Linked DNA regions of Homo sapiens: all the other regions are linked to region 1. Evidence: fine-mapped QTL for protein levels in blood plasma. A gene starts in region 1. Each other region holds a variant in brackets. All regions are shown on one strand. Distances are between the middles of the regions.

Region 1 (8,089 bases):
TCCCTCAGGAAAAAAAAAAAAAAAGCCGCATCGGAGGAGCCTGGCCGCAGGACCCCTCCTCCCCGGGCGCCCCCACACCTTGGTCTCTCCCCCCGCCCTCCCTCACACCCCCCCGCCCCCCAGCTCTCGGGCGCCCGCCTCCCTCCTTCGCGGACGGTCTCCCGACACGCCGGCTGAGAGCCCTTTTCGACTGTGAGCTGCGGCAGCTGAGCAGAGGCGGCGGCGCGGGACCTGCAGTCGCCAGGGATTCCCTCCAGGTGACGATGCTCTGGTTCTCCGGCGTCGGGGCTCTGGCTGAGCGTTACTGCCGCCGCTCGCCTGGGATTACGTGCTGCGTCTTGCTGCTACTCAATTGCTCGGGGGTCCCCATGTCTCTGGCTTCCTCCTTCTTGACAGGTAGGGGAGGGGGCGGGAGGGACCGGCCCTCCGGGACGCCGGTTTGGTACCTGGGAAAGGTGGCGCTGGCTTGCCCCGGGGATGGGAGGGTGGGGAGCGCGCACCTTGGCGCTTGCCCTGCGCTGGTCGATGGGGATGAAGCGAAGCCCCGGGAGGGCTGGGAAGGCTGGTGAAGAGGTTGCGGGCTGAGAGGCTGTTGCCTTCAATGTAGTAATAATAGACATTCTTCTATTTGAATTTGAGAAATTATTTTATTTATTTTTAATGCTTTCCTCAACTTTTATTTTAATCTTTCCCTCTGTAGAACTCAGGAAAAAAATTTGTGCAGTTTTCCGCACATCTTCCTTTCTCATCTTTGGGGTTGCAATACATCCACTGTGCTAGGAGTGCTTTTTAAAGCACTGGCTCTCAAGACCTTGAATTTAAAGAAACTATCATTTAAAAAGGGCACTAATAGCCGGATATAATAATTATATGTTTTCAGGCAGGTGAAGACCTCAGCTGCTATTCTGAAGGACATACTTTACTGACACCTGGTGCAGAAAAGAAAATATGGAGTCAATTTCTAAGAGAAGGGAAAAGGGGATTGCGTTTCAAAAAGTGATTTAAACCTAAGACAATGCGAGACAGATTCATAGAAAGGCCTGTTTATTGACTCAGTTCTGAGTTTTGGTCAATTTAAAATCTGCCCCAATTTGAGGGTTTTTTTAAATTTTATTTTTTATTTTTTTCTTTGCGTATGGGGCTGTGTGCTTAGTTGAAATATCTTCATAAAGGAGGAGTGTTATTAAAAATCCAGTGAAATACTTGGAATTGTGCTTAGACCATCTGAGAACAGATAATTTATCCCTATATCATAGTCTTTTCTTTTTTGAACCTGTTTAAATAAAATTATTGAAAATGGAGTTGGGGGCAGAGGTTTTGCTTTGGTGAATTTAATAATTTAAACCACATTAAGAATTCTGAAGTTTGGGTAGAGGTTTCAAAAAGGATTAGTGTAAAAATTTTAAATGTTGAAATCATGCTGCTAAGCTAACTTTAAATGAAACATTTTTCCCCCCTGAATTTCAGGTTCTGTTGCAAAATGTGAAAATGAAGGTGAAGTCCTCCAGATTCCATTTATCACAGACAACCCTTGCATAATGTGTGTCTGCTTGGTAAGTGTGGAGATCAGGTAATATGAACTCAACTGCTCTCTCTGATAAGGTGAATCCATTAAATGTGATAATATAACCAGATCTTACAAATTGTCTTTATCATTACAAAATTGCACATAACTGTACATAGTTTGTGAGTTGAATCCAGTTAATTTCTGAGTTTTATGGACTTTGGCAATTTCCATTTCATCCAGCTGGAAATTCTTATCTTTGACATCATCCTTATAGACGTAAATTTCAGATAGGCTTTGTATGACGTCTCGGTGAAATGACAGTTTGTAATGTCTGTTTCCAGTAATGATTACTACAACCAAATTCTTGGGACAACAAAACTTTCTGCGTTGGTTCTGTCATTTAAGCTCAGTGGGAAAATGATGAGATAAGATTTAAGTATGAAGGTCAGGAATAAGGTATGCGACAAAGGGAAAGAGAGGTGACAGCCACAAAAAACAAACATAAGGACAAGATGTAATTCTGGATTTCTTTCTCGGGTTTCTTTGCCTGTTATACCCTAAACCCTCAAATACTGTCTTTATTTCTGATTTGGAAGCATGAGTCGGAAAGGACAATTCCATCCTTAATAGAGAATGACACTTGGCTGTCAGCTGCTTAGTTAACACTATCAGTGGTTAGAAGACTCAAAAAATAATTTGTTTCCATTTATTTTAGTTTAGTAGTTAATGATAAGTCTAATAAGTAACCACTTGGGGGAGATTAAGTAATGTGAATAAGAATTTCTGAGATGAAATATAGACCTACAAGGTAAACATTTTTGCTTAGGAGTGTTTTACATGCCAATCACTTTTGGCAAAATTTGGTTAGAAACTACACATTATAAAACCTTGTTGGAAATACATTAAGGCAGTCAAATGCAAAGCCCCAGAATGATAGAGGACTACTTGTTGCTAGATCAGCATGCTGTGTGGCGCTGGAGAAGGAATTCATTTCGGTTTAGGCAAAAGCCAAGCTATCTGAGTTTATACTACATAAATTTTTTCATGACAAGAGTTGAGGTCAATGTTTTGAAGTGATAAATGGGTGAAGGTAAATGGCTGTATCAAACAATTATCAGGTTCGGAAGACTAAGGAAATCAACAGAAACAAGTAAAAACGCACTGCGTTTGCTGACACAATAAATATTGCTGCCTAATAAAACAGAGCTGAGAGAGGGTGTATTATGATTGCATATTTATGGGTTGCTGTGTTCATTGATGATCTTTTAGTAAATAATTTGTTGAAAAGAAGCTTTCAGTTTAAATTTTGACTCAGTTGTAGATTTACAAATGCAGTGTGTGTGTATGTGTGTTTAATCTTCCTTTTTTATTTTTCTTATCTGTGTAATGTGAGTGAATTATTTTATCTTAATCTATTAAGATTTCAGAGGAAATTACCTTGACCAAGTAATATTTAAATGTGCCGAGAGCTTTGCATATAAATATATTGTTTTCACTTCAGCAATATTAGTACTTATCAAGCTTACGTATGTAGTTTGAGTTTTGTAAACTGTTCCCAAATAACATTATGAGAAATTCTCCCCACAGCATTCCCCCCTTTTCAGTACTCCTACCCCTGCTAAAAATAGTGCCTTTCTCTGAAAGTGGAGACTTAGTGATAAGAAGATAGATGTTAGAGTCCTGCAGTTTTGAAGGTAAAGATTACATCTGAAAAGATGCATCAGTTGGAATTCAAGTGGGAGTGATATTTATTACAGAAAAGTATCAATTAAATTCAGAAGGGCAGTAGGTTTATTTATGTCTTCAACATTTAAGTAACAGTTGTAGGTATCTGCCTTGGGTGAGTGCTGTCAGAAATCCTTTCTAAATGTGTAATATTAGGACTTTGGCTATCAGCTTCACCCATTACAGAGCTCTTTCATTGGCTGAAAGGCTCAGTGATATGTTATCATGACCTTTGCAGGGGTTTAGAATTATGGGGTCCAAGTTGTCACAGTCATTGCTGCTTCCCAAACGTTTGTAATGACTTGGTAAAATTGAGTAATAATAGATGGATGACCACTTATCTCTTTGTATAACACTCTTGTACATTTCCACGAACCCACTGCAGTTCATGGATTTCAAAGCACTCCGGACAGCCAGGAAGCTACTTGGCATTTTTGTACCTAGGCTGGAAGGTAGACCTATTGAGCAAATTGATAATAATAGCAATGGTAAACATTTATGTGTACTATTTTTATTTTATTTTATTTTTGCTTGTAGGGCCTCATCTAAGCCTGCATTATTTCATTTAATCTTCACAAAACTCCTTTGAGGGCTTTTACCTTTATTTTACAGATGAGGAAACTGAGGCATAGGGGGCTAAGTAGCTTGTGAAGGTTGCATTTGAGTAAATAGTGGAGCCGAAACTGTCTCAGTTTTGTCTGCCTCTAGAGCACATGCCTATAACCATAAGAAACAGCCTATTTGTTGAGTTAAAGATGTGAGAAAGTAAGGAGAAAATAGAAAGAACATCCAAATTATTTTACCTTTTGGCGTTCCTTGGGTTATTTTGTTTTTTCTTTTGAGTCTTTCAGGAGTTCAGTTAGTTGACATTTGTTAATCGCATTATATGAAAGGAAAATCTCGTTATGATTTCAGTTGACCTGCAGGGAGCGTTAGTGGTTAGCTGGTTTTATGTATGTACATTAAGAGGGTATGTAATAGTCTCAACTGTACTTTGGATAAAGAAAATAGTCATATTTAGTTTGTGTTGGTCCAGCCTTTTGGCAGAAAGGTACCTAAGGCTGAGTATAAGCTCATATCTTATTTCATAACATGTACAAAAAAAAAAAAAAAAGAAAGAAAAAGCTAACGTCAACGTATGCTTAAAAAAGATGTAAAATGTTACAGTTGGGAGGAAATAGGTGGCACAAAGTCCTGTATATAATTACAGAGTAAAAGCTTAAAAAACCCCACAAAAATCAACTTGGCCTGATTTAAACTTTTAAGCTGTGAAATGTTTCAAAGGTTGGAGTGAGCTCATTTCTGTGGAGTTTTTGAGGATGACAGTGGGTGCAGTGGCCACTGTAAGCAGAGCTGAATAATTTTATTCTCATTTATCATCCTCTGCGTAGACCTGAGCATCTTGCCAGAACCAGTCCCAGTCCAAGAATAACTGGTTTGTTAGCTGGTGATGGAATCTCGTTTTAAAGTATGTGGCCCAAAAAGCTTCAGTTCATCTATTTGAGGGGGTAGGTGAGAAGTTGGATCATGGTCCTAAAATCTAGGGAACTGGGTAGGCAGTTGAGATTAAACTGCATGTGCTTTATTGTTTAGTCAGAAAGCAAAGCATAACTTTTCCCTACCTTACAAAATGGTCTTTTATGGGGCCGAGGAAAGGAAGCCAACAGTTATTACTGTTTTTGTATGATATTTTCCCACTTTCTTGCTAGAATTATTTTTCCCATAATGTCTAGGAAAACACGTTGGTGCCTGCCCTGGAGTACAGCTGAGAAGAGAGCCAGCCACACCTAGATAAATGAAACTGAAGCCATTCTCTGATCTTTGGGACATCCCTAGGTCCACCAAGCACACATGAGAAGTGTGGTGCTTGATCTTCTCAGCCTTTTCCACCTAACTGTAGAATAGGAGGACATGGCGGGAGCCAGTGAGTTGGGCCCAGTACTGGAAACCTGAGAAAACTTTGGAGGCTGGGACTCAGAAAACCCGAAGTCAGAGCTTAGTTTGGCGTACATTTTGTTCAGCAAAAAACATTATTCTGAGGTTGAAATTTCCTCTTTAAAATCCAGAGGTGCAATGTAGAAATGGACCCTTTGCTCATAAAAAGCAACATGAAATTCAATGTTACAAGAATCAGGGCTCCACCTGTCTTGGAGCCAATCAAATAGTGAAGACAGAGAGACCTTGTCTGCTGTCTTCTACTTTTTTAATCACAAAAATCTAATATCGCTGAACAAGGAGCTCCCAGCATCTTAGATTCTGTCTGGTGTCTTATCTCCATAAAATCCTCATGTTCTTCATTGTTCAAATTAACTGGCTGGAGAATAGATATCTATTATCTAAACAAGTGTTAGGCACATGTTTGAGGATGAGGGAGATAACATTGCATGAGGATTCAATTCATGTGTGTATGCACGTGTGAAACAGAGAGAGAGAAGATATAAAGTAGACCAGATGTGTTCAGAGAGGTACTGCACTCAGTATATGCACAAATACATAGATTGCCTTGCTTTTTCCAAGTTGTTTCAGGTCATTTCTAGACTTTGGATGCTCACTAAGGAAGCAATCAGATTTATTTATTTTTACTCTGTTTAGAAGGTGATGTGACCAATTACCTTTCAACAGAACAATTTTTGGGAAAGGTAACAGTTAATGTATAGGATTGTGTCGGCAAATTCACAAAGACTAGTTCTGAGAGTTATTCTCGTCCATGCTTTATTCAGGCTCAGAGAAGTAGAGCAAATCTCGTGAGATCACACAGTTACTAAGAGACAGAACTGGGATGTGAAGTCAGTTCCTTCTTTGCTAAACCAGAGTTTCCCTCTGCTGGAAACGTTTACTACTTAAAAACTTCTACAGATACCTTCAAGAGCTTCAGAGAGTCCTTTCAACCTGCACAGAGCTAATGTAGGCTCTCTATGGAGGCAGTTATAGTGGTTTTGATCTTGCAACCCAAACTGTCTAGAATTTGGAGAGCTCTTCCAAGAAAGACATGGGTTTTGGCTGGCATCATAACATTTTGGCAAAGAACTTTGGCCCAGACATCAGACAGTCTTGGGTTAAAATCAAACTGGTGGTGAAGTTGAGACAACTACCTCACCTTTCCAAACCTCAGTTTCTTCATCTGGAGAGTGGGATGGATGTCAACATCTAGTTCACAGAGTTGCTATGTGAATTAAATGAGATGTAGCACATAAAGTTTGGCCTGGGGCTTGGCATAGAGTAAACACTCTGGAATGATTTTTTATTGCTGTTGTTGATGATGGCATTATTTTTAAAAATTCTTATTTCCTCATATGGAATAGGATGCAAAATTTCAAAAGAAAATGATAAAAGGGACGACGGACGAGACATAGGAATAATGATGGCAAACCCACCCATTGTTACGCATGAACAAGGTTTGTCAGAAATGTTTAGTGAGTTTTTCTGTCCCTCCAGGCTTGGACTGGGCTGATCTAGGCTGCTTCCTTATTGGTCCAGTGATCCCAGTGATCTTTGGGCCCTGGTGTAAGTTTTCCCCTCGCTTTCCATTAAACATAAACAAACAAACAAACAAACAACAACAAAAAACACAACTTTCCGTGGAAGAGGGGCCTGCTTTCTTGCAGAGTATTTACATCTCTATGCCTGTGGGGTCACCTTCACTTGTACTTTTATTGGCAGAGGGATTGGGTTGGGACTCGGGAGCACTGTAATTCTGGAAAAACTGCCTAGTGGCCTGGCATCATGGGGATTTTCCTGGCCCGCCTTGTGGAAGGCTCTCGACCCCTTTCCAGAACTGAGTATGTTTTTGTTGCCTACTTACTCAATGCTCCCCTTCCCCATCCCATTTCAAACACTGTTTATTTTGTTTTGAGGCACTGGACTTGACTGTGGGTATCAACAGTAAATTGTGTTTTAAGTGTAGGAAATAATGTTGAGGAAAGAGAGCCCTTCCCCAGACTAGAATGCAAATAGGGGGAGGGCAGTAGAATAGGAGATAATGGGAAAAGTCAGGCAAGGCAAAATGATGGAAAAATAAAACTAGTTAATATGAATTTGTTGGGTAAATAAAGGATATCAGTTTTTCACACCCTCTTCTATGGCCCTTCTGTATAAATGATGATATATTGAGTCCTTTGTGCTATAAAAGAATATGAGTAACACCACCTTTCATGGCAGTGGGAGGTCAAGTGTGCTTGTTGAACTTAGTTAAGATCAGCAAATGAGCTGGGTGTATATTTTAAGACCTGTTGATTCCCAGTTCTAATTCTATAAAACACCACTCAAGGCACTAGGGATAGCAGGTTATAAATTCAATAATATTATTCTTTCTTCCTTCTTTCCACACTTCATCCCCTCTTCCATTTTATTTTATTATTTTTAGCCCTTTCTGTGTTTGAAGCATTGTGCTGGCTGGGGACCTTTGAGGAGACAAAGACCAACAGGACAGATTCTTGCCCACAGCCTAATGGGGGAGACGAACACATATATAAATAAGAAACTTTATAGGAGTGACAGAAAAGCACTGTAATAGACTCAAACCCCTGTACTAAGGGGGCTGCCAGTGAATTCTGACTAGGGTATCTGGGACCGTGATGTGGGAGGAGAGATGATCCAGGCAAAGCCTTGTTGGAGGAAGGACACAAAGAGAGTGTGCTTGGGACTGTGGAAATGGCAGCGTCTATTGTGCCCAAAGCTGTGATGGAGCTGGAGTTAGAAATCTCCATGGGAACCAGCAAGGGGAGCATCTTGAATGTAATAATAAGGATATCAGTTCCATTCATGTAACTGGGAGAAGCCATTTAATATTTTTGTGCAAACACATGACACAATAAAATAAATTTTATATAAAGATCTCTAGGAGCTTTTGTACGGGAT
Region 2 (8,109 bases), 130 kb after region 1:
CATCTTATGAAACAGGGTTCTCTGAAGTACTAGTTTAGAAGATGCTGCAGGAGATTATTGATAGAAATTACATTGATTTTTTTTTTTTCGAGATGGGGTCTTCTCTGTTGCCCCAGCTGGAGTGCAGTGGTGCAATCATAGCTCACTATATAACCTGGACTCCTGAGCTCAAGTGATCCTCCCACCTGAGGCTACAGGCACTGCCACCATGCTTGTCTAATTTTTTATTTGTTGTAGAGACAGGGTCTCGCTATGTTGCCCAGCTGGTATCAAACTCCTGGTCTCAAATGATCCTTCTACCTTGGCCTCCCAAAGTGCTGGGATTACAGGCCTGAGACACTGTGCCTCCCTATACATTGATTTTTTTGATGGAAAGATTTGGCTAATCTGAGCTACTTGTGTCTCTGAGGAAGACTGAGGTGAATGTTGGCAGGTGTCAAGGAATTCTCATTGTCTTTCACGTTAGGTCAAGTCCTTCATGTGGACAAAAGGACAGCCAGGCTGGGAATACGACAATTAGCTGGAAGAATTCTGTGTGCAAAAGTCACAGTTATCTATTTCATCCTTCCTTCTAGACCTCAGATGGATTGTGGTTACTGCATCCATCAGTGCTGTTTTTTTTCTTTCAGAAAAGACATTTTAAAAATGGTAATAGTGGCCTACTATAACTGCGGGGTTGCCTCACACGTTAATAGGGAACACCAATCTGTTTGTGTCATTGGTAAAGGATGTGTGTCAGCATGTGCTGTTTTTCACAGTGAGATGAAATGATTATCCCCCAGCCTCCAAACAAACCCCTCCTTAGGAAAACAAAGACTTGCAAGATTATTTTATAAAATCTGTGTTGAACTTATATAAATATATTGTGACAGCAGCTGTCATACTGCATATATCAAGAAAGTGCTTTGAAACTTTATGCAAATACATGGGTGATGTATACACTACTGTACACCCCAAAGACTACCCATGTGTTCTTGGTGCCAAGGAAAACACAAATGTTCTCCTAACTTTTCAGAGGAAAAGTCACCACAGCTCTGTACCTTTCATAGCCCCGTTCTCTTGGCCAGTGAAATATACTTTGACTGGCTAAACCCAAGGACAGTGAGGTGGGGAAGAGGGTGCCAGAGGTTCATTTTTAATTGATAACACTTATAGAGCAAGCACTGTGCTGGGCACTTTAAGCACATTGTTGCATATAATTTTCACAACAGCTTTGCGAGGAAAATAGCATTGTTTAGAGATAAAATAACCAAGACTCCAATTAAATAAACTCCCCAAGGTAACTCATTTATTATTTTATGGAGCTGCATGGCATTTAAAATTAATTTGACCATATATATATATATATATATATATATATATATATATATATATATACACACACACACACACATATATATACACACACACATATATATAAATATATCTTATATATAAATATATATGTGTGTGTGTGTGTATATATATATATATAAAATAGTTAACATTTATTGAGCATTTACTATGTGCCAGATACTGAATTAAAAGCTTTACCTCAGTTGTTCTGTTCTTTTCATGAACTCTATGAGACTGAATACTATTGTTCTTCCCAATTTACAAATGAAAAAATTGAAGCTTAGGAGAAGTTAATTAACTTTGGTGCAATACAGCAAGGAATAGAACTGGGAATCTGAAGGAGCTCTTAACCCCATGAGTTTGTTCCCTTAACCATATGTACTTCCAGCTTTCCTCCTTGATTTAGAATCTGGAACGATTTCCTGGTTTGTATTGAGTTTAAGCCATAGATCTTCTCGTGTCATCAGGAAGTAGGGTTTCCATAACATTTTAAAGTCATTATTTTTCCTCAAAGTTTTGATTCATCACCCATTATCTGGAGTATGGTATAAGTTCCGCATGCATGGATATTGTTATTTCTACAAATCGAATGATAGAGAAGATTTGGAGTCTTCAAGAGTATTTTGATGCAGACACCTCACATATTAAGTATTGGATGAAAGAAATGTCCTCTTTACACAGATTCGTAGCTTTTTGCTTATACTATTGGGCTACATGGGTAACTGTGTACCCTTTGGAGTTCGGAATGTTTGAGAAGAGAATCCTTTAATATTTTTACCATGAACAATTTTGTTTCAAACACTGCTCCTTTCATTCTCAAGTTTTAAGAATGCTTCTGCTTTTTAAAGTAAAATTCATCAGACCCTCCAAGAAATATTAATGTTGAACACTTTGCTCTAGTGGTTTCCCGTTTCCCTACCATGGCATGTTTTATTAGTGTTGGAGTGAGAACAACCATTTTCCAGCAGGACTGATTCTAGAGAGTGGGCCACTTTTCATTTCACAGTTAGAGGCTGAGAGGATTTGAGAAAGAGGGAACAAGAATTAATCCTCAAGGCTGCAACAGGCCAAACCAGGTCAAAGGCTCAGTAGATCATACTTTTTGTCCTAGACCACTGGAAACACTTTCCTAAAACAAAAACACTAAATGGTCATTGTATATGGAAGTCCACACAATGCATTTTAGGCAAAGTATATAATATAAATGGGAGCTATTTTCTACCTCAAGAATTTTTGGAAGGAGGATGGAGACCTTTTGTCTTAGAGTTTCATTCACAGAGTCCATAAACACTTATCAGGTAGCTACTTATAACAAAAAACATTTAATGTACCATCTAAATATTAAGAGAAATACCTCACTGAAAGGACAATATCTATAATTCACAGACTTGGGAATGTGCAGGACATTCTTCACATCAAAAATATGTTCAGCCACTCGGAGCTAGCAATGTTCTGATCATGAGTTGATTATGCACATTGAGTTATTTGTTTATATCAGTTCTCTGAACTTGGCAACCACATGTAGTACCAATGGATGAGGCTCTTTATAAACAATATAGACCACCTTAAGAAGTGATTTTCTGGATTTCCTGGTTAAAAAAAAAGCTAAGTGTTCAGCCTTCAGTATGTAAGCTTTCACTTAATCTGCCTGTTTTTAAGACACTACCATCAACTTTAAGTTAGGCTGGTAGAATAAAATGATGATCTTTCTGAACTTCTATGTCCCTTAATTCTGGACATTTGCCCCAAGAATATTCCCCTTCAATACTGGTCTTTGAAGAGAGCCCTGGGCATTTTCTGAGGGACTTGCCCTTGGGCATTGACCACAGAAGCCTTGACATCTCTTTTAAGTAGATTGGGCATTCCTGGATTTCTAGTCAAAGGTGGCCCTCCACTTGTCTTCCGTTATCTTCACAGGATTGTCTGTGGTTTTTAGTGCAATATTTAGGGTACTTCTGGTAAGCCCTTAAACTTCTATCCTTCTAGTTATGGTCTTAAAAAGAAAAAGTCCTGAACTGCTGTCGTTTTCTGTATCATTATCTGAAATAAGGTACTAACTAAGAATGTTCAGGTAGAATTTTCTTCTATTTAACTGGTTTAGACTTGTGTTTCTCCATCCTTCTTGAGAAAGACCTTTGGAGTTAAGCATGTTGTCACAGTTACGGAGCTGTGGTCCACTCAGACCTCACCCATGATCATAAGCTTTCCATCCAGCCATGGCCTCACTGAGGTGCTACTCCCTTCTGGCGTCTCAGCATGTTCTGGCCAAGATTACAAGACAATGCTTCTGAACCTGGCCTAATATTATTCCAGGAGAACTTCAATTTAATATAACTTATTGGCCAAACACTTCTTCTTTCTGCTTGGCCAATACATGAATCAATTTGTCAGAGAATATGCCTTGTGGATTTGTGCTATACTGCCAAATGCTGAGCATTGCTGACATAGATCATCTTTCAGTAGGAAGATGGAGAGCCTTCCTAGAAAGTCGGAGTTCATGATAGAGGAAATACCACTTTCCTGAGCCGGAAAAGATTCCCTCTTCTGCCATGTCTGTCTGCTGTTGTGCCCTCTGTTTGATGTTGCCACCATTTTTCCAAGCACTTTGGTTCTCAGCCTGGCACAGCCACTACTTCCACCATCTTTGCACATTTCAGCTAGTGTCCTGGAGGCCTCAGATGACAAAGCAGTATGGAAGTCTCCACTGAAGTGGCAAGGGCCAATATCACTTTCCTTTTTCTGTGTTCTACTCAATTATAGGACACCTAAATCAGTAGGGCCTATACTTGAATCTCACAAAGATTTTAGTTAAACAATTCTTTTGTGCTTTTACTTTCAGTATTCTTTCTCCTCTAGGAGAATACAGGCATCTGTGGTACTGAACTTGGGATGATGTGAGTGACAGATGCCAAGTTATGTTGGTGATAGCATGTTCCTTCTGTCAGGCTCAGTCAGTAGGTGATTCTCTTGTTGTTCATCTCTTCCTCCCTCAGGGTGGATTTTCTCTCAGGAGAAGCCGATGAGTGAACCTCTCCCTTTCACTGGACCTGCCCAGACATGTCAGAACACTAGCTTTGGCTCATGCTGGGACCCCCCACCACAGCTGGTGCCAACAGACTGTACACTTGTTTTTCTTTGATCATATATGGCCTAGATTAGGAT[A/C]GTCCCAAGAGCTTGCCAAGATTGGGTTGCAGCCTGTCTCAAAACACAAACTTAAAATTGTTTGACAAGACCAATACCCAGGAGCATCATGAGTTTGAATGAATAGTGCCGGAAACCTCTAGTCTCTCTGCGCAGTGTTCCTTGATGGAGGCCACGGAGTGTTTACTATAGAACTTCATGACATTGTACTTACAACATTTTAGATTTTGTTAAAATTTTAGGAAATTGCCACCTGATACAAATTAGAGAACTGCACATAACAATGGATACCAAATAGATATTTTGGATTTATTTCATTTAAAGACCATAGTGTCTGACATACAGAAACTCAAATGTATATTGAAAGGGTGAACAAAAAGGATGCCGTGACTTCAATTGCTATTTAGAAATGAAAATGAAGTTTAAATGTAATCTTATTTTTCCGTAGTGTGCTCAGGCATACTAAGGAAAACCTCAAAGACTTCTAAGTATAATTTTGTCAATACAGTGAGAGAGATTCAGGTATATCTTAATTAAGAGTCATTCATGTCAAGATAACAGATATTTTTTGTACCTCAAGAAACCTCAATGGAGCACAAACATTTTTGAGTTATTTTCAGCTTTAACTGACAACCCAACAAGAAGGTGTTTAACTGAAAACCAAACACTTCTGATGTTACTCTGGCCTCACTGTGTGGCTAGGCACTGTGGAAGACAGAAGAAATATTAATGAATATGGCTTCTGCCCTCTGTGAACCTTCAACCTACTTTGGGACAAACGATAAACCCATATGAAGCATTGTGGGAACAAAATAAAACAATATAAACTATTTTAGGTAGCCAGAACTTAAAGGTCAACAGAAAGTTTTAGGAAAACAGTTCATTGGTGATGTCTTGGGTTTCTGTCTCTGCAGTTCCGTATTTGTAGAAGTCTTGAGCAGTCAAAGGCCTCCGTTCGGCTTTCTTCTTAGTGCCTATCCAATGTTGTTGTGATGTAGATAGCCTGGGGAACATGAAAAAATGCCCTTTCTCCTGCATAATGGTGTTATTTCCTTCCTTTTAGGAATGGCTCATAACTCATAGGAGGTGTGAGTTCTAAATGATTGTTCTTTTCATCTGCCTGGAAGCGGGCCAGGCTGTAGATAAAGCGTTTGATGTGTCAGCAGTAGGCTTGTAACAGCTTTGACTACTTCCGTGATGATGAAAGTTTGAACTTTGATAAAAATGGCAAGAAAAGGAAAAGGGCTCATTTTCTTCCTTTCACTTTTTTTTGTTTGTTTGTTTCTGGGCAGCAGTTGAGAAACATCCTACCAGGGTGGTCTGCAAGGTCTCCAGGAATCTGAAATATTAGGAGGTGTTCTCCTGTGGATTTACTTGTTTATTTATTGATCGTTTCAGAGAGGGAACACCCAGGCTCAGAGGCATGGCAGGAGCTGGCTGTCAGGGCCCTTATCAGCAGGCCCCGCCTCTCCTCCAGTTTCAGCTCAGTTAGCCCTGGAAGGGGAAAGACCTTGCTGGGGGCAGATCACTGAGTCCAGCTATCATTCAGCACCTGCTTCCACACACCACACAATCTAGGGGTGCAAATCTACTCAGACTTCCAGAGCTTTGCCTCTCCTCTCGGTTCCCAGGGCATTTGTTTAGAGATCTCATCTGAGCTTGGGCCTATAGGGTGGGCTTATCTTCCTCATTCTAAAATAGACAAAGAGGAAAGTAAAATAGCTGTGGACACCCAGAACCAGTTGGAATTTGCCTCAAACAATATCGCAGTCTTTCATCAGTGATTTGTGTGTCTGCCTGAGTGGAAAGCCTGAGTTGGTGGAAGGAGAAGAATTTCTTTCTTTTTCAAAGAAAAAACGTAAAAGAAAACAAACACATGAACAAACAAACAAGGAAAACTGCCATTCAGCTAAGTGGCAGGAAGAGCTAAGATCAAGGACTCCAAGGGGAAGATGAGGCCAATTTTACCTTTAAAAATGAGACTTAAGCAAACACAATAACCAAATCCCCTTTTCAAATGGAGTTTAGTGGCTGGGCAGTGGGGCTCACACCTGTAATTGTGCTTTGGGAGGCTGAGGCACGAAGATTGCTTGAGGCTGAGAGTTTGAGGTCACAGTGAACTATTATTGCGCCACTGCACTCTAGCCTGGGTGAGAGAGACAAGTTGTCTCTTAAAAACAAACAAACAAAAAAGGGATTAGTGGAACTATGGTAAAGACATTTCCATCATGTATTTATTTAATAATCTAATATTTGCTTTATGAAATTATGATCTTTGGCTCTGCCGCTGTATGCAGTTGAAGTTTAACACTGTCTCTATAGCCAGGCTGGACCTGCTCACTTGTGCAGCTGTAGAAAGAAGGCATCTAGCTGTGCTATTCACAGGCTGAGGCCTCACAGTGCCTGCTCTGTAACCCCTCCACCGAGACCGGTTGAGGCATTTTTCTGTAAGAATCTTGAAATATAGCAAACATGGTTAAACTCTTTGGGAGTCATCTAGCTGACCATGAGAGGACATTGATGTCCCTGCAGGGCTCTGTAGCCTGGGCCAGAGGGTGCCTGGCCAAGTCCCACAGCTTAGTGGGAACTTCAACTTAAGGGGTTGGTGCTGGCCAGCAAGACTGGCATAGCGCCCCTGAAAAGACCTGTTGGCAACAAAGACAGTTTTCTTACTTCATTAACACCGAAAGTTGCTCCTGAAGCTGTCCATCAGCGCTTATAATTTGCCTATGACAAAAGGAGAGGGCGAATAAGACGAAAACATTGGATTGTCTGGTTTGAATTTCACCTTCTAACTAGACATGGGTGCAGGAAGAAGAAAAAATAAGTGGATGTGAACTTACTCAGATCGCAAGCCATAAGACCAGGATTTAAATCGAGCTTCTTGGCTATCTTTTCCTTAGGAAAGCATTAGAAACACTAGCTTTTTTGGTGAGGTGTGTTGTAGTCACATTAGGCCTGAAATATGACATTTGGGACTACACAGAGAAATTAAATGTCATTTATTTAATAATAATTAGGGTAGGCAGAATAATGCATCCCCTGGCCCCAAGATGTCCATGTCCTAATCTCCAAAACCTGTGAAGGTGACCTTACATGGCACAAGAGACTTTGCAGATAGGATTAAGTTAAGGACCTTGCGATGGAGAGGTGACCCTGGATTCTTTGGGTGGGCTGCCCACTTACAATAGTACTTATAAAAGGGAAGCAGGAGGGTCAGAGTCGGAGGAGATGTGATGATGAGCAGAGAGCACAGTCAGAGGGAGGTCTGAAGGTGCTGCACTGATAGCTTTGAAGATGGAGGAGGGGGCCATCAGCCATGGAAGGCAGGCTGCCTCTGGAAGCTGGAGAAGGCAAGGAAACAGATTCTTCTCTAGAGCCTCCAGAAGGAATGCAGCCTGCTGATACCTGGATTTTAGCCCCATGAAACTGATTCCAGACTTCTGACTGTAAGAAAATAAGTGTGTGTTGTTTTAAGACACTCCATTTGTAACTTATCATAGCAGCAATAGAAAACTTAATAAAATAATATAAACAATAATAACAATAATGCAGTTATACTTAGAAACATTAATTGGCATGCAAAATAAAAGGAATTTGTTTCAGGCTTGGTTCTCAAGACAGGGCATTAGT
Region 3 (8,109 bases), 37 kb before region 1:
CAGCAGCTCCACGCTTATATCTGATCATTTATGTTTGTGTGGAAATGAAAATAATATCCTCAGGCTCCTTAACAATTTCGCAAGCTGGCCTGTTGTGGGTGGCTGTGTGATGTCGCTGAGTGACACAGCCTTGGAAACGCAAAGGCTGCTGCTGTTTCACCTCCAGGATACCAAACACCCAGGGCTTCAGAGGGCTGGAGTTGGGGCAGTGTCACAAGATCAGAATGTGATCTCCGTGACTGCTTAGCCTGCTGAGACCCAGAGGCTCAGAGGCTGGAGGATGGAGGGATGCGACAAAGAAATGTAAAACATGCTCCATAACCTCAACTAAAAACCCAGCATTCCTTCTTTCTCGTACTCATTTATTCATTCACTCAACAAAGATTTACGGAGTGGCTGATATTCCCCAGACATTGCTTCAGATGCTGGAGTTTCGGTTGTAAGCAAGAGAGATGAAAATTCCTGCCCTTTTGGAGACTGCATTCTGGTAGAAGCAGACAGTAATGAAACAAAATAAATAACTAAATTAAATAGTATGTTAGATGTTGAGAAGGAGGATAGAAAAAAATGCAGCAGAAAGAAGGAGCACAGGGGAATGGGTCTGTAATTCTAGACTGGGCAATCAGAGAAGGACCCGATGAAGAGATGATGTTTGAGGAGATTTGAGGGAGGAAAGAGAGTCGGCCATGCAGGCACCTGGGAGAGGGCGCACCTGACATGGGGAAGAACTCCCTCTGATATTTTCTAGCCTTGGACTTCATCTCTGCCTTGGTCTGTCTATGGTGGTAATAACCTAACCTGAAAAACTGACTCTAGGTTAATGGATTATTGGAAATTTGCAGAAGGGACCCCAAGGGAACAGAAATATCTTAACACTTGTTAGAAATTATTTTTAAGTCTGTGGCTTTCCAACCTGTCCAGGAGCTTCTGAGGCCTCACAGACCCTCTCTCTGCCATTAGAGTTTATACTAATGTTTCCAAACTGTGGTCTTCAGGGGCTTATCCTGAGAGATATTGGCTCAGCAAAAAAAGGCCTTGTTTGTAAATAAACTGGGGAGATACAGTGTGCTGTCTTCCCAAAGTGAAGATTACCTTTAAGAATCCCTACAATAAAGAAGCCTGTTGAATTTTCTTTAACCCTGAGTGTCCCTAACTTATTCTCATGCCATGACTATTACGATGCCATGGAACAGATGTTCATCAGAAGACATTGACTCACACAATAGTGTTCCATGCTGGTTATAGACTGTCTGGTTCATTGTTTCTTCACTCGTCCTTGATGTCAGTTTCGTTGTATTGTCAGGCAGGGCTTAGGGATAAAATTCTCCAGTACAACCACTGGGTCCTGGACACAGAGGACAAATACACGAAATCATTATGGACCGAATGTAGATGGTTGTAAATGTGGTCCTACAGAAAAGGTCGCTCAGGGCTTCTTCAAAGTGAGTAGAAAAATATCTGGATAAGAGAAGGCCTTCTTTCCAGTGTAGACAAATGCAGAGACACAATTTCATTGCACAAATAAACATTAATTTGGGGCCAGGAGGTGGGGTGGGACTGTGAGGAATTTAGCGGGTAGACAAATTCTACATGGAAAATATCTCAAAGTATTCTCTTTGCCGTCCATCTGCTGTGCTCACATCCACCTCTCCTTACTGTCTCTGCCCCTTTCTTATTCTGTCTGTGGCTGCTGAGCGAGGGCTGGGCTCTGGTTATTCTTTTCTTCCTCAACTTTTCTGCCATCCTTTAGTCTTGTTGCCTCCTATTTTCTTCTTTTCTTCTGGCTGGACTTGTGCTTCCCATTCCTTATTTTCTGTTTCCTTTCAAACCTCCTTCTATTCCCTTCCCCCACAAATGGTTCCACACCCCGTGTATGACCCACCCACTCTGCTGCCCACTTCACAGGGTCTGTCTTTTGTCCCTGCTTCCATTTGGCCTTTTTATTCTGGGCCCTTGCCCCAGAGGAAGACAGACCTTTATTTCTTTGGTGTGTGTTTTTGCATCACCCGTGTGACATCTATGTTTGTAAGGCAACTTCAGCTCGGCTTACATTTTCAGTCATGCATAGGATTTACATGATAACAAAATCTCCTGTCTGGGAATGTGAGACAGATTCCTGTAGTCAGTGCATTCATCACTCCCAGGGATTTATTCAATCATTCCCTCACTGAGTAATGTTTATGTGTGAGGTACTAAGGACAAGGAGATAGAAGACATAATTCTGCTTGGAAGGAGCTCATGGTCTAGTGAGAGACACAGTGACCAAAGCAGATAATCTCAATAGAATGTGGCAAGTGTTGCGCCAGAGGCCAGGAAGGGATACTGTTCCAGGAGGGTCCCTGACCCAGCCTGGGAGGGCCAGGGATGGCTTCTCAGTCTCAACGGTAATTAGAACAGTGCAAATCTGAGCTTTCAACTGAAAATTGAATTTGGAAAACTTTTATCTTTTACTCTGAGCCTGAAAGTTTCTCAATATTTAAAGAGTTTTCTGATAGGATCAGTGGCATTATTTATAAATGGTATTTTAAAATACTGTAAATGAAACGTGTCAACATTGGGAAGATTTGCATAATTCAGTGTAATATTTTCCAATATATTAGGTTATAAATCATGTGTGGATAAAATAATACACTCAACATGAAAGATAGGCAATGGATTTAATGTAATTGAGTATAAAATGTTCAATTACCTGGTTTCAAATTCTATTCTGCAACTCACCTTTATTAAAACTAACATGTGTAGAGTTTTGGAGTATAGTGAAAGAAAAATACCTAAAATTATTTGAGAAAATTGGAACATATTCCTGCTTTTCCAACTATATAACTATGTGAAGCTGGATTTTCTTTCTATACTTCAACCAAAACAACATATTGCAAAGTAAGCAACACAGAAGCAGAGAGGAGAATCCTGCTATCTTTACGGAACCAGATATTAAAGAAATTTGAAAACATGTAAAACAATGCCACTATTCTCTCATTTTTTTCTGTTTTGGAAAATATAGCTATTTTTCATAAAATGTGTAATTTACTTTAACATGTAATTATTACTTTACAGTTAAGTAATTAATATTTAAAATTTTTCTCAGTTTCAGTTTCTAATATGGAAAATATTGATAGCTATACCCCACATAAACTAAGCTCTTTGGAGTCCTTAGCAATTTTTTTTTTTTTTTTTTGAGACGGAGTCTCACTCTGTCACCCAGGCTGGAGTGCAGTGGCATGATCTCGGCTCACTGCAACCTCTGCCTCCCGGGTTCAAGCGATTCTCCCGCCTCAGCCTCCTGAGTAGCTGGGACTACAGGGGCGTGCCACCACATGTGGCTAATTTTTGTATTTTTAGTAGAGACGGGGTTTCACTGTGATGGCCAGGCTGGTCTCGAACTCCTGACCTGAGGTGATCCACCCGCCTCAGCCTCCCAAAGTGCTGGGATTACAGACATGGCCACCATGCCCGACCCTGTCCCCATTTTCTATAGAAGGAAACTTAGACCCAGAGAAATTAGGAAGTGTGTCCATACTCACTACAGTGAACACCCTTGGCACCCCTGTCAAGTGCCCATGTGGTCATGATCACCAGTGCTCTGCACCCATTCCCCAGTTCCGTGTGCCTTGCTGCCAAGGGCTTATGGCTGGAAAATTCTTCAAAGGCTTGCCTGTGGGCTGCCATAGCCGCCTCACCTGTAGCCAAGCATCCAGGAGTTGATTACTGAACCTCCACCTACTAGCTGATGACCAATTGGTGAACCAAAGATCAGCTTCTTTGCCTCTGGATGAATTCTGGGGTGCAATTTACACTCCTGAGCTCCCTGAGAATCAGGTTGTGACTGGCCTTCAACCAAAATCACACCTCTTTACTTCTCCTTCTGTAGTGGGCTTCTCATTTACCACTTTCCCTGGGGAGTTCTTTGTTGATGGATCACTTGAATCTTTGCCTTGGGGTCTGCTTCTTAGAGACTCTGAAGACTGTCACTCACCTAAGTGGCAGAAGTCAGGATTTGAACCCAAGGCAGCCTGACTTCAGCACAGGTGCTTTTAGCTAGCACACTGGACTGTGTGCTCTCAGATTACTGGTGTAGGCCTGTTAACAGGTTAGTCCATCCAGTTGCAGGGTCTACAAAACTATGCTTCTTATTTTACCACACATTAAAGTGTCCCTTTCTACCGTGTGTATGGCAGATGCACCTGACAGCAATAACTTAAGCAAACCCAGAGAATGGCCGTATGATCTAGGAAGAATTTTGTTTCAGTTTCAAGCTAAGGAATACGGGAGTGGCCAACCTGGAGATTCACTCCTTCTTTACGAAGAATATCTGAACTCCTGGCCCGTTCCTTGAAATACAGGCCATCCGGGGAGGGGAAGGCCCTTCGTTTTGGGTTAAATGGAGGTTGCTAGGTGGAGGTTGCTAAGCCAAAATGCTATATACACTGCATACTTTTTACAAACGATAGTGGGTCTTCCTGCCTAATCCGCTGTCCCTGGACCACCCGATAGGTAAGTCTTCAATAAAGCCTGTATTTCGTTCGCTGGCTGTAGGTCTTTTCTTTGGCCTCTCAGACACAGTGCCATCCCTACAGAAGTCAATAGGGGTCCAGCAGATACCTTGAGAATGTATGTTCTTCACCCCTTTGGAAAAAATCCTTTGCATAAGGGAAAGTAACACTCCGCTAGGTCTTCA[C/T]GCTTATTTAAATCCTGTCAATCTAATATAACTGTGTATTATAGGCACATGCCAGCTTCCCTCCACCTCTCACACCAAGTAAAAACAAATGCAATATTGATAAACTTTTCTTTCCCATGACCCATGGTGGGTATAGATAAGTTAATGGAGAAATAGTGGTTGGCAATAACATTCCATGGACTCCTTCCGCTGAATCAGCAGTAGCAGCTAGAATTTCATAAGCTGTCACCACTTCAAGAGAGGAGAAGCGGTAGCCTGGTGTGCATGTGTTGGTCACACCCACACTGTGCTGAGCTCTGACTTCTGGGCAGTGTTGAATGCATAGGCTGTTATTCCCCAAACCCCTCACCATTCCTGGATTTAACCTGAGTCAGGGTAAGTGTAACCACCCGTCAATCGCCTTTATAGAAAACACTTTGGGTCCTGACTATTGGTTGCCCCTTTGTTTTTTGAGGTCCTTGAGTTTGTCTTGTGCTATACTTCATGGAAGGCACAGGAAATGTATCCCTAAAGCAGCCTTAGCATCAAAGACATTTCTGTGAAAACACCCCTCTCCACTACCACAGAACTGTTTATTTTTTCAATTAACAAAGGATAAGGTGGTCCACTGGGGAATTTTGGCTTAGAGCCCCAGAATTTAAATATGTATGCAAAGTAGGGGGTTAAAAAGACCTTAGATTAATCCAGTTTTTACAACACCTGGGGCTGTGGTGGAGATGGGGGCAGTTAATTTAAGCACTAACTTTTGAAGGAGCAATTTTCTCCCACTTTGGCTGCCTGGGCTCAGGCCACAGAGGCAGGCTTTAAGTATTTCACCTAACTACACTCAGGCAACAAGCATGGGAAACTCTTTGGCATGCCTTGGTATCTACTCACATTCTTCTGTTTTGCTTTGTCTTTCTCCCTGGACAAATGGCACCTTATTATCTAACTTGAGCCTTCGCATTCAGACTTCAAGACACAGCCCATGTTTTGAATTAAGGAAGAATGAGCCTCAGCATGAGCCCTGGGGAATCTGGGTTAGGTGATCCAAGTCCCCCTTGGGTTAGACTGAATGCAATACTTTTCTTCTTTACCCTGCTAGCAGGTCTATTGAGTTTCAAAAGAGATCAAGCATATATGTAGAAATTCTCCAAATTCTATAGCTCTGCTATGCTAAATTTTCTATCGAAGAAATTCTCGAAAAGAAAGGGAAGGGGCGTCTCACCAGGATCTACTGAGATTGTTCAAGAGGGTAGAGTAAGAGGCCACACATTGAAAACATTCCTTTTTGTTTCCTTCCTTACCTTATTTCCTCCAGTCTGAAAGTACAGATGTTTGAAACTCTTCTAGGAGTGGAGATGACCAATGACCAGTCTGACTCTGGGAGAGGCTGGACTTCTACTATCTTTAGCAGAGAGCCCCAATATGATTTTTAAAATTTACTCTCAAACCCATGGAACTGGGAAATATTTACAACACTTAGCCATTTGTTGACTTGAATATGTGAAGTCTTGCAGAGGAGCTATTTCTTTTCATTGTGACATCAATATAATTTATAGTGGATGGCATTCTGTCCCTGATTTTGTCTCCCTCTCTCCCTTCCTCCACCCCATTTACATTCACTTGAAAGAAAAGTCTCTTAAAAAGCATGTGAGTCATGACCTGAGCATCTATGAACAAACAGTGACTCTTCTTAGGACACAGAACACCTCTTTCCTGGGCATTGTGCATTCATATTTATGTAATAAAACTTAAAAATATGCAGGATGCAAAAGTCTTCTGGAGTAAAGTTGTTTAGAGTTTGCACAACCCATATAATAGCAACCGCCTCCAGAAGGTGGATTTCTATCTCAGCTCAGAGAATCCACTAACATGTGGGCCAGCCTTGGGCAAAATTGAGAAATGGGAGAAGACTTGGTTTGCTTCCTTCAGCCCCTCCACTTCTCAGCGAGTGTCTTGCTCTCTTCTATTCTCCCTGCATCTCTTGCTGTGCACTCAAACCCACCCATCCTGGTGTTAGGTAAGGCTGGGTTTAGTTTAACATGTTAACGGCCCTCTACATTTAAATCTTATATTTAATTATAAAAGGAAAGGGTCTGTCCTTTTAAAGACATTGTGGGGGACCTAAGCGGGGACGGAGGACACAGAAAAGAAACTTCTCGAGGAACTTTGACCAAGAGAAACACCATCTGAAAATGCCTAAGCTAACAAAACTGAGTTTAGGACATCTGCCTTTGGCCCATTCACGTTAACCACCACGTCCCTGGAGACTGGTTTTCCTCCTAATATGGTGAAATATGCCAAAAGCAAGTAAATTCTCCTGTGGGATTTAAAGGATTTAACTGAATCACATGGAAAGTTACCAGATTTTCTGAGTGATTTATGTGGTAGAAGCATGGTTCTATTTGGATGAACTTTTTGCTGTCTCACAGAAAAAAGAAAGTAAAATATTCGATATAGACTCACCAAGTGGTTCCAAGAACCTTGCCTTGAAAAAAAGAAAAAAGACACAGCCTTTTTCAAAGGTTAGTTTAGAAGTATTAAAAAATCATATTTTTATAGTAATAGTTATCACATTGCCAATATTTTTCCATCAACACTGTAAATAAAGTAACTTTCTTCTTGTTAGTACACCATTTAATTGCTCTTAAGTAAGAAAAGGGTGTGTAAGTGTGGTCTTAATCTAAGTGTTAACACACTGGTTAGAAATGTGAAGTCCCTTAAATTTATACAAAAAACCTTAAACACATGAGATAAATTTTAGAAGCTGTTAACCACATGGAGATGCTGGGTTCCAGACACAAGCTCTTGCTCCCTCAGAAATCTATAGCATCCCTTCAAAGTTGAAGTTCAGTTCCACTTAGAAAGGCATTATTTCCATTCTCAACCCTATTTTAAAATGAAACAGCAGAAGTGAATTCTACTGGGTTCTGTTCACATCGCAGTGACCCTAAAAAAGTCCACAGAAAGTACACTTCTCAATCAAATGTTTAGTTACCATTGACTGCGAAGACCCCAGAGAGAGCATGACATTTTTCAATGATTGCATCAAAATATATTGCTAGGGAATCCAGAAAAAATATACAACTAAAGTCTTGCTTTTCAAAAGCATCTTCAACCAGAGAGGCAAGAAATATTAAAGAATGCTTCATTATAATAAAGAAAAGGATGACCCGTTTTTAAAAAGAATGGAATTATGGGGATCCAAATGGAATTCAAATAATCCTGGTTGCGTCCTGCACTCCAGTATTTTGGATGCATTTGGGAATGCTGTTGGATCACTCTGGATTTGCCTTTTCTCTATATTCTACCCGACAAGTTTATATTCAGCAGTATCCCTCACACTGTGTGAAAATTAGCAGTGGTTCAAGGAGGAAATTTGGGGGTTTATATAAAGTAAGTGATGAATCTTCTTGGCTTAGAAATGTGGTTCTTAAAATATAAGGCTTATA
Region 4 (8,109 bases), 150 kb before region 1:
ATTAAAACACTGCCAGAAAAAAAATGTAAGAAAAACAAAGTATTAGTTGAAAATAAAATTTAAAATGTTTGTAAGATAAGGTACATGTGATAAAATGAATGATATTTAAAATAAAAGATAAGAGGCTTGAAGTTAATAAGATAAAAGTTTAAAAGCATAAGCATAGAGGAGGTAAAATATTAAGATAAAATGCTCATAGATGAAAAGCTGAAAATGTAAATCTACAGTTACACGCCATATTACGATGTTTTATTAAACCACAGGACCACATAGATGATGGTGGGCCCATAAGATTATAATACAGTATTTTTACTCTATCTTTTCTGTGTTTAGATATCTTATACACAAATACTGCTGTGTTACAGTTGCCTACGGTATTCAGTACAGGACCATGCTGTACAGGTCTGTAGTCTAGGAGCACTAGGCCATACCACATAGCCTCGGTGTGTAGGAGGCCCTACCATCTAGGTTGTGTAATGCACTCTGTGATGGTCACAACAACGAAATCACCTAAGGACACATATCTCCAAATATATCCCCATCATTAAGCAATGCGTGACTGTAGATGGGATTAGCAATTAAGTTCAGGAATTCAGGACTAAAAATACTAGGATAAAGATATTAAAACTCTAAGATTTCAAGTGTCATTTAGAGTTGGGTGCTTCAGGAAAATAACAGGTTTCCTGCTGACTCCTGTAGATTTTCTGGTGGCTTCTGTGAAGGCTGAATCCTGGAACCACCCCACTGCCCTACAGCCATGGTGGCAATAGACGCTTTCCTGCTTGCAAGTCTTCCTTCCTTCCTTCCTTCCCTCCCTCCCTTCCTCCTTCCCTCTTTCTTTCTTTTCTTTCTTTCTTTTCTTTTCCTTCCTTCCTTCCTTCCTTCCTTCCTTCCTTCCTTCCTTCCTTCCTTTCTTTCTTTCTCTTTCTTTCTTTCTTTCTTTCTTTCTTTCTTTCTTTCTTTCTTTCTTTCTTTCTTTCTTTCTTTTCTTCTTTCTTCTTTCTTTTTTTTTTTTTCTAGTTAAAGTCTTGCTCTGTTGCCCAGGCTAGAGTCCAGTGGCTCAATCTCGGCTAACTGCAACCTCCACCTGCCGGGTTCAAGCAATGCTCCTGCCTCAGCCTCCCTAGTAGCTGGGATTACAGGCATGTGCCACCACGCCCAGCTAATTTTTGTTTTTTTTTTTTTTTTTTAGTAGAGATGGGGTTTCACCGTGTTGGCCAGGCTGGTCTCGAACTCCTAATCTCCAGTGATCTACCTGCCTTGGCCTCCCAAAGTGCTGGGATTCCAGGTGTAAGCCACTGTGCCTGACCAAGTTTCTTTCTTACCCGTGCCTCCATCACTGGTGTTTGGTTTGGATTAAGAATGTAAGGTTGAGACCCAGAAAAATGACTGAATAAAGCCTATCTCTTTAGCCTATTATCTGCCCCCGTGTGCCTGGGAGTTGAGCCACATCAAGCCACCTGTCAGGACACAGACCTCCCTCCTGCCTCTTTGCCCACTGGGTTCCAATCCGTTTGCTTGGAATGCCATTCCTCCCTTCTTTTGCCTGGCTGGGTTTTACCTACCTGATAAACCTTAGCTCGAGAATCATTTCCCTGGGAAGCCTTTTCTGAGTCTCACCACTGTGCTTTCCCACCCCTAGTTTAGTTTATTTTTCAGCCACATTGCAGAATAATTGTTGATTTGCTTGTCTGCCTTCTCCACAGTACCAAAGATCGGGGACCACTGTATACTAATGGAAAAACAGCAACAGCAATAAAGCACGATCTATCCATTTTCTCATCACATCTTCAATAACCCCACAAAGCAGGCTCTGATAGCCACATTTTATAGATGAAGAAACAAAAACTTATTTATTTATTTCCTTGACAAATCTCCACTGACTTTCCACTATGTGCCTGGCATACAGGGGTTAACTAATCTGCCCAAGGCTGCCCATTTAGAAAACTGCAAAGCCAATCATTGAGCCCAGGCCTATCAGATTCTAAGCCTGTGCTCTCGCCAGGATGCCTTTTCTCCTCAGCACATAGTAGGCACTCAGTAAATATTTGTCAAAGAAGTAAATGGCTACATATGAGAGTAAAGGCCCTGGAAACCCAGCCCTCTTTCTCTGAGATCCTCCTCTAGCAATGGGCTGACAGTGCTACTTGGAGGCACTGCAGTTGCGTCTTTTGATCTTCCATGCATCCTTCTAAAGGAGGTACTGTGTTTTAGGAAGATCCCAAAGGTAAACATACAGGTTGCAATAAAGCTTTCCTGAGAATCTTCTTTTGAAAAAGCAAACAGGACACAGACTCCAGAGTTTTCAAATTATTGTGATTTCTAGGATTCGTTTTTATGGTTTGGGAGTGGAATGTATGGCTTAAGCAAACACAATTAAATCCAAATTACCCGTGGCCACGCAGCCACTGGCTGTCTTTCCGTGTGGGAAAAGGCAGGGCTTTGTAGGGCTAGAAAATATCTGAAAAAAATATGAAGTGACTCTGTCTTTTTTTCTTTCCCTTTTTGTAAATGTTCTTTTAAAACACACCAAATTCCTGAGGAATTTGCTGTTTTATCTGTTTATTTTTTTGATTTGTTAGTGTCCTAGAGCATGAAATCTTATTTAAAAGGCACTGTTCTTTCTTGATATGGATGCCCATGATTTTCATTCTTACTTTCTAAGTCCAAAAATGAAATGCAGTTCTGCCTCATTGGGAGCATTTCTGTATTCTTAAAATGTGCTGGTGTTTTTCCGGCTAAAGATGTTTCAGAAGCAGTGGGTAGGCAATTTGTTGTGATTCATAGTGAATTTATTTATATGGAGAATTTTCTCCAAATTTTAAACACAGTGTACCCTTTGGTACTTCGCGTATGTGCCAAAGTGTCATCTCCATATGACTGGTGCAGGCCATTTGAATAAAGTTCCAGATGGGAATCATTGTTCAAATTATTCCTTTCCCATCATCTAAATACAAATAGCAAAATGGAAAGCCGTTTTCCATTGCTTCCCAAACAATAATAATAATAATAATAGTATGAAAAAATCCTGACAGATACCTTCAGATAGTATGATATTATAATGACCGTAACTGCTATAATGGGACTCTTTTACAGATGGCAGCCGAGCCTGATCAAACCATTCATTAGTCCTTCTAAAAACTGTCATATACATTCTCTTCTTTATGGTTCAAAACACAAAAGCCCCTTTGTGCCTTTAGAGACGTAGCTGCAATTTCAAATAAAAAGAGCAGCACATTAGCTGCCATTATGCCTGAGCCATATCATCAGCATAAAAATGAATTTGTAATATTTTGCCACATGTGATGTATTATTGCCGGGCTATGTAAACAATACTGGGTCTGAAATTGAGCCTTGGGGACTCCCTTTACAACTGACAAATTGAGAAACAAGGCCATCAACTCTCACACATTGCATCCGGTGAGTTAAATAACTCAGCCAAGATCCATTTCCAGCCCAGTCTGAGATAATCTCTGTCCTGTAATAATAAATCATAGTCAAGGGCGTCGGATGCCCCAGGCAGATCTATAAACCCGTAAACAAGGCTATGCTCCACAATTTTGATCACTCTTAAAAGCTCAAGCCAAATCATTCATGGGTTTAATCTCAGCATTGGTCACAATTACATTCACAGCTCCCGTCTGCCCATGAAAAACAGCAGAGTTGCTGTTTAGAAATAGATCAAGGTAGTAGCTTTCTCTCTTTGTTGATTTTTTGGCTTTCCCTTCTGTACTCATGAAATCAGTGAAAGCTGGCGTCTGCACTGGGGATCAGCCACAGAGAGCATGGGACAAGTTCTATTTATTCCAAAGGAAGGAAGCAGAGGAAGATTGCATGGTAAAGCCGGGTTGCTGGGCAAATGATTCCATTGTCGTAGAACGTGGAACCAGAGTTTTGGGCAGAAATGGCCTGGGGAATGGTGAATTTGCTCAGTTGTGCCTCCTAACTGAGTTTTTTCACTTTGCGTTGGTGGCTTATGTTCATGGTTTCATAGGTTTAACTGTCTGATTGGTGGCCACTTTGAGCACAATGGGATTGTTAACACTTGTTGGTTGTATAGGGTCAAAGCTTATACACGGATGAGAATTGACTGCTCAGACCAAGTGTTTGGCAATTCTCAGTCTGTATTTTGTTCTTTAACTTGCTCTAAAATTCACAATAGAGTTAATCTATTCCTCTTCTCGAGCTTTACTTATTTTCGGAATTAATTATAGTTGGCCCTCATTATCCACAGTTTAGCTTTCCCAAGTTTCTGTTACCTCAACTGTGGTCCAAAAATAGGTTAAGTACAGTACATTAAGATAT[T/G]TTGAGAAACAGAGAGAGACAGAGACCATATTAATATAAATTTTATTACAGTATTTATTATAGTGTCTAATTTCACTATGGTTAATTTTTTCCTGTGCCTAATTTATAAATTTATCATAGGCATATATGTATAGGCAAAAACAGTGTCTATAGGGTTCAGTACTATCCAAGGTTTCAGGCATCCGCTGGGGGTCTTGGAATGTACTCTCCACGAATAAAGGGAGACTGCTGTTCACACAAGAGCTGAACAGCCAAAACTGGGGAGATTGATAGGGGGTACCAAAGAGAGAATTTGGAGTTCAAAGTAAGATGCGTAACTCCTTTTATGATTAATATTGGCAGGAGAGGGAATTAGCATTTGCTAAACACATACTCAGTTCAAGGCACTATGCTGCCTGACTTGGAAATGTTATCTCACTTAATCCTGACAGTAATCCTGTTGGGTGATATAATCATTATTTAAGAAAGAGGAGGCTGGGCGTGGTGGCTCAAGCCTGTAATTTGTTTTACACTTTGGGAGGCCGAGGTGGGCGGATCACAAGGTCAGGAGTTTGAGAAGAGCCTGGCCAATATGGTGAAACCCTGTCTCTATTAAAAATACAAAAATTAGCCGGGCGTGGTGGCGCACACCTGTAGTCCCAGTTACTTGGGAGGCTGAGGCAGAAGAATCGCTTGAACCCGGGAGGTGGAGGTTGCAGTGAGCTGAGATCGTGCCACTGTACTCCAGCCTGGGCGACAGAGAGAGACTCTATCTCAAAAAAAATAAAGAAAAAAAGAAAGAGGAAAATCAAGACTCAGAGGGGCGAGGTCACTTGCTCAAGCACACATAGCTATGTGACTGACAGAGCTGAGAGATGAAACTAGGTTAGGGTGACTGTCAACACACAGTGTTTCTCCTGTGCCTCACTGCCTCCCAAGAGTGAGATCTCAAATTTATGTGACATCTCTGACTTAAGGCTGGGTAGGCAAATAGGATTTTATGTCAAAGTTGCTGTATTAGTAGTAGTGCCTGGAATGCCGTGTGGAGAAAGATTGTCGTTGGGTGAAATTCTCCAGTTGATGAATGGTGTTGGCCACGTGTTTGGCTGGGGAGGCCAGCAGGCAGCAGGCCGGCTGAGCGTATGCTGGGTTCGCCTCAGGTTACTAGGAGGCATAGTCTATTGTCAAGCAGAATTGTGCCTGTGTGTTGGGTAACAATGTATACCCACAATGGTTATACGTTGGTGCAATGTATTATTCATAACCTGTTAGGAAGAAAATTCTGTTGAAAAAAGCCTCCTAATTGCCACTCTGGAAAGTATCAAGTTGTGGTCCATCAGCATTTCAGGGGCTTATATTTTTGTAAGTAAAACACACTTGAAGGCACCCTGGCAATACCTAGGGTATCCTGCCCTTAAAGCATCCTATTTAGAGAGTAATTATTTTCTATCTTTGTTGCAGTAACAATAGGGGAATGAAACCTAAATGAATGATCAAAACAAAAACTCCTCCAACCACGAGGTGGCGCTATAATCTATTACTCAATTTATAAATGCTTCGTGGATTGCTTGCTGACTATTCTCTTTTTGTTCCTGTTTTACTTGCTTACTTTTTAAAAATTTATTTTTTTAATTGAAAAATAAAAATTGCATCTATTTATTGCATACAACATGTTACTTTGAAATATGCATACTCTGTGGAATGCCTAAATTGAGCTAATTAACGTATGCATTACCTCACACACTTTTTATCTTTTGTGTGGTGAGAACATTTAAAATCTACTCTCTAGGCAAATTTGCAAAAATACAATACAATACAATACATTGTTATTAACTGTAGTCATAATATTGTGCAATGGATCTGTAGAACTAATTCCTGCCATCTAACTGAAATTTTGTACTCTATTTTTCTTTTCACACTCATTTTAGTTCTTTCCTTCATTTCTCCAACCCTTCTCAAAACAAACTAACGAGCCAATGGTCCAACAAGCAAATATCTCCTCCAAGTACCTTTTTTATTATTATTCTTTCCTCATAGTCCCCGTATTTTAAATGACTTAATGTAGCAAACAAACCTTAATTAGTAATAAAAATTCATTTGGGGGTTTTCATTAATCAAAGACTATCAGAGCTTCTGCTCAGAATATGTGTTATCAAGTAAGTTATGTTTCTCCAGCTAAAAATTAAAGACATTTAGTATTTTAGATAGCATGCCTATGTAATGTTATCAAGGTTTTTTTTTTCAAGTAATGGAAATTGTTCACCAATACTCATTACTGCCTTTAAAGACTTCTGGGAGGGGTGTCTTTAAACTCTTTTTGAGAATCAAATTCATTCCTGGGTCCCTGGGTAGAAATTTTGTAAATATCAGGATGCTGAGGCTGCCTCTCCAAAAGCAATACCTACTGGTTCTCTTTCTTGGTCGTTTGCTCACAAATTCAAGCTCCTTGCCCAGGATTTAATTCTCCATTTCGGAGAATTTAATCCTGAATAACACTTACACCTGAATAACGTCTTTAATTCTAGGTTCTTATCATTCACCAAGAAAACTAGGCCATTTTGGTTTAAATTAAATCACCGAAGTTCTTGTATGATTTGTTGGTAATAGTAAAAGAGACTAGACTCATGAAATTAGGGATCGCTCACAGTTGTAACAATTAGACCACACTTCCTCCCAGACACAAGTTTTAAGACTATCAATTAAATATAAACAGGTTTTCTGGCTGTAAGATTTTAGCTTTTGTTTCCTTTCCAGTTAGCCTAGAACCCAGCAGTCCACATGTGCCTGAGAGAGGAAGAGATGGTAAGACCAAATGTTGCTCAAAACCTTGGAGACAAGTTTGGTTCTAGCATGAGCTGAAGTTTTACTAGATTAGGAATTTATATAGGCTATGTCCTTCAATTCGTCTACATAATTTCCCATTGTCTAGTGAGCACTATAGCTCAAGGACCAATGGCACCCAACACCTTAGAAATAAAATTCGTGAGTCCAAAGACAAAGCATGCTATTGTTTGGCTCCTTCCACTGCCACAGGAAGACTTTTGTTATTGGACTAAACTTAGAAGAAGTGAAAGTTTTATGATAAAAGCAATTCTAAGCCAGTCTTTGCATAATGAGCCAATCCCAACAGTCACCTAATAATATTTTCCTCCCTGAACTCTACCTTTGAATAAACATCTTCCTAATCATGTGCCCCAAACTGTTTCTAGCGAATTCAGGAAGAGAGCAAAGTCCAACTATATCTGATGTATCACCCAAGTGGTCCAGAGGTAGATGGCTCGATTGATACAAACCCAACGTAAATTCACAGATTTCAGACGTGTTATATTTATGATCAACTGTGACCCACAAAGTGAAAAGTGTGTGGATCAGTGAAGTTTGGTGGTCTTTAAAAAGGAAGGGAGGCCCTCATCTCCCCCAGAATGGTGCTGAATGTGGCTGGAATGTAGCTAGGTGTCTGCCAGCTGCCATCCAGGCATAATCCAGGTGGGAGCCCCATCTTGGTACAGAACGTAGGAACCCATCTACAGTTCTGTGGCTTTCCTTCCCCAGAGCTGTGTCTGGCCTGAATGTAAAGATGTTTGGAGAAGATGACAAATCCAGTCCATGACCCTGGCTTTAGTCCAGTTCCTCTGACCCCCCTAAATCAGGTCTCAGAGCAACTTGGAGCTTAATGCAGAGGAAGATAATTCTTCTGACTGTGGAAAATATTAGCTAAATAGATGACAAAGATCGGTTGTAAAATCTCTCTAAGAAATGAATTAGATCAGTCTGTCTGCCTAAGGTGGTATGGATGTAATTACCCCTAAAAGCGTGTTTCTTTAC

Alleles and levels. Alleles are on the strand shown, and positions count from the first base shown. The strength of an association depends on the size of the effect and on how common the allele is.
As copies of C replace A in region 2, the plasma level of the protein whose gene starts at base 189 in region 1 goes down (moderate association).
For the plasma level of the protein whose gene starts at base 189 in region 1, C is the low allele of the variant in region 3 and T is the other (weak association).
For the plasma level of the protein whose gene starts at base 189 in region 1, allele G in region 4 goes with a lower level than allele T (moderate association).

Evidence for each region. A credible set is the group of variants that fine-mapping cannot tell apart. PIP is the chance, under the fine-mapping model, that this variant and not a neighbour inherited with it causes the effect. The UK Biobank Pharma Proteomics Project read protein levels with antibody pairs (Olink). The fine-mapping took linkage between variants from a reference panel, not from the people measured, so its PIPs are less certain.
Region 2: its variant is the best candidate, but not a certain one, in a credible set for the plasma level of the BMPER protein (UK Biobank, PIP 0.76).
Region 3: its variant is the best candidate, but not a certain one, in a credible set for the plasma level of the BMPER protein (UK Biobank, PIP 0.51).
Region 4: its variant is the best candidate, but not a certain one, in a credible set for the plasma level of the BMPER protein (UK Biobank, PIP 0.80).

Annotation. Positions count from the first base shown.
Region 1 is chr7:33,905,351-33,913,439 of GRCh38, forward strand. It overlaps BMPER (BMP binding endothelial regulator), which reads left to right and starts at 189. Exons shown (of 15, transcript NM_001365308.1): 1 at 189-396; 2 at 1,468-1,553. The coding sequence starts at 264.
Region 2 is chr7:34,030,552-34,038,660 of GRCh38, forward strand. All of the region lies in intron 6 of BMPER (BMP binding endothelial regulator), which reads left to right. Among named protein-coding and RNA genes, the nearest start is that of BMPER, 130 kb to the left of the region's middle. RefSeq lists an enhancer at 3,848-5,047. The variant A/C (reference allele first, on the strand shown) is at 4,498.
Region 3 is chr7:33,868,156-33,876,264 of GRCh38, forward strand. The region is part of intron 1 of LOC124901613 (a long non-coding RNA gene); the gene reads left to right. Among named protein-coding and RNA genes, the nearest start is that of BMPER, 33 kb to the right of the region's middle. The variant C/T (reference allele first, on the strand shown) is at 4,676.
Region 4 is chr7:33,751,959-33,760,067 of GRCh38, forward strand. No RefSeq gene overlaps it. Among named protein-coding and RNA genes, the nearest start is that of FLJ20712, 30 kb to the left of the region's middle. RefSeq lists an enhancer at 1-201. The variant T/G (reference allele first, on the strand shown) is at 4,306.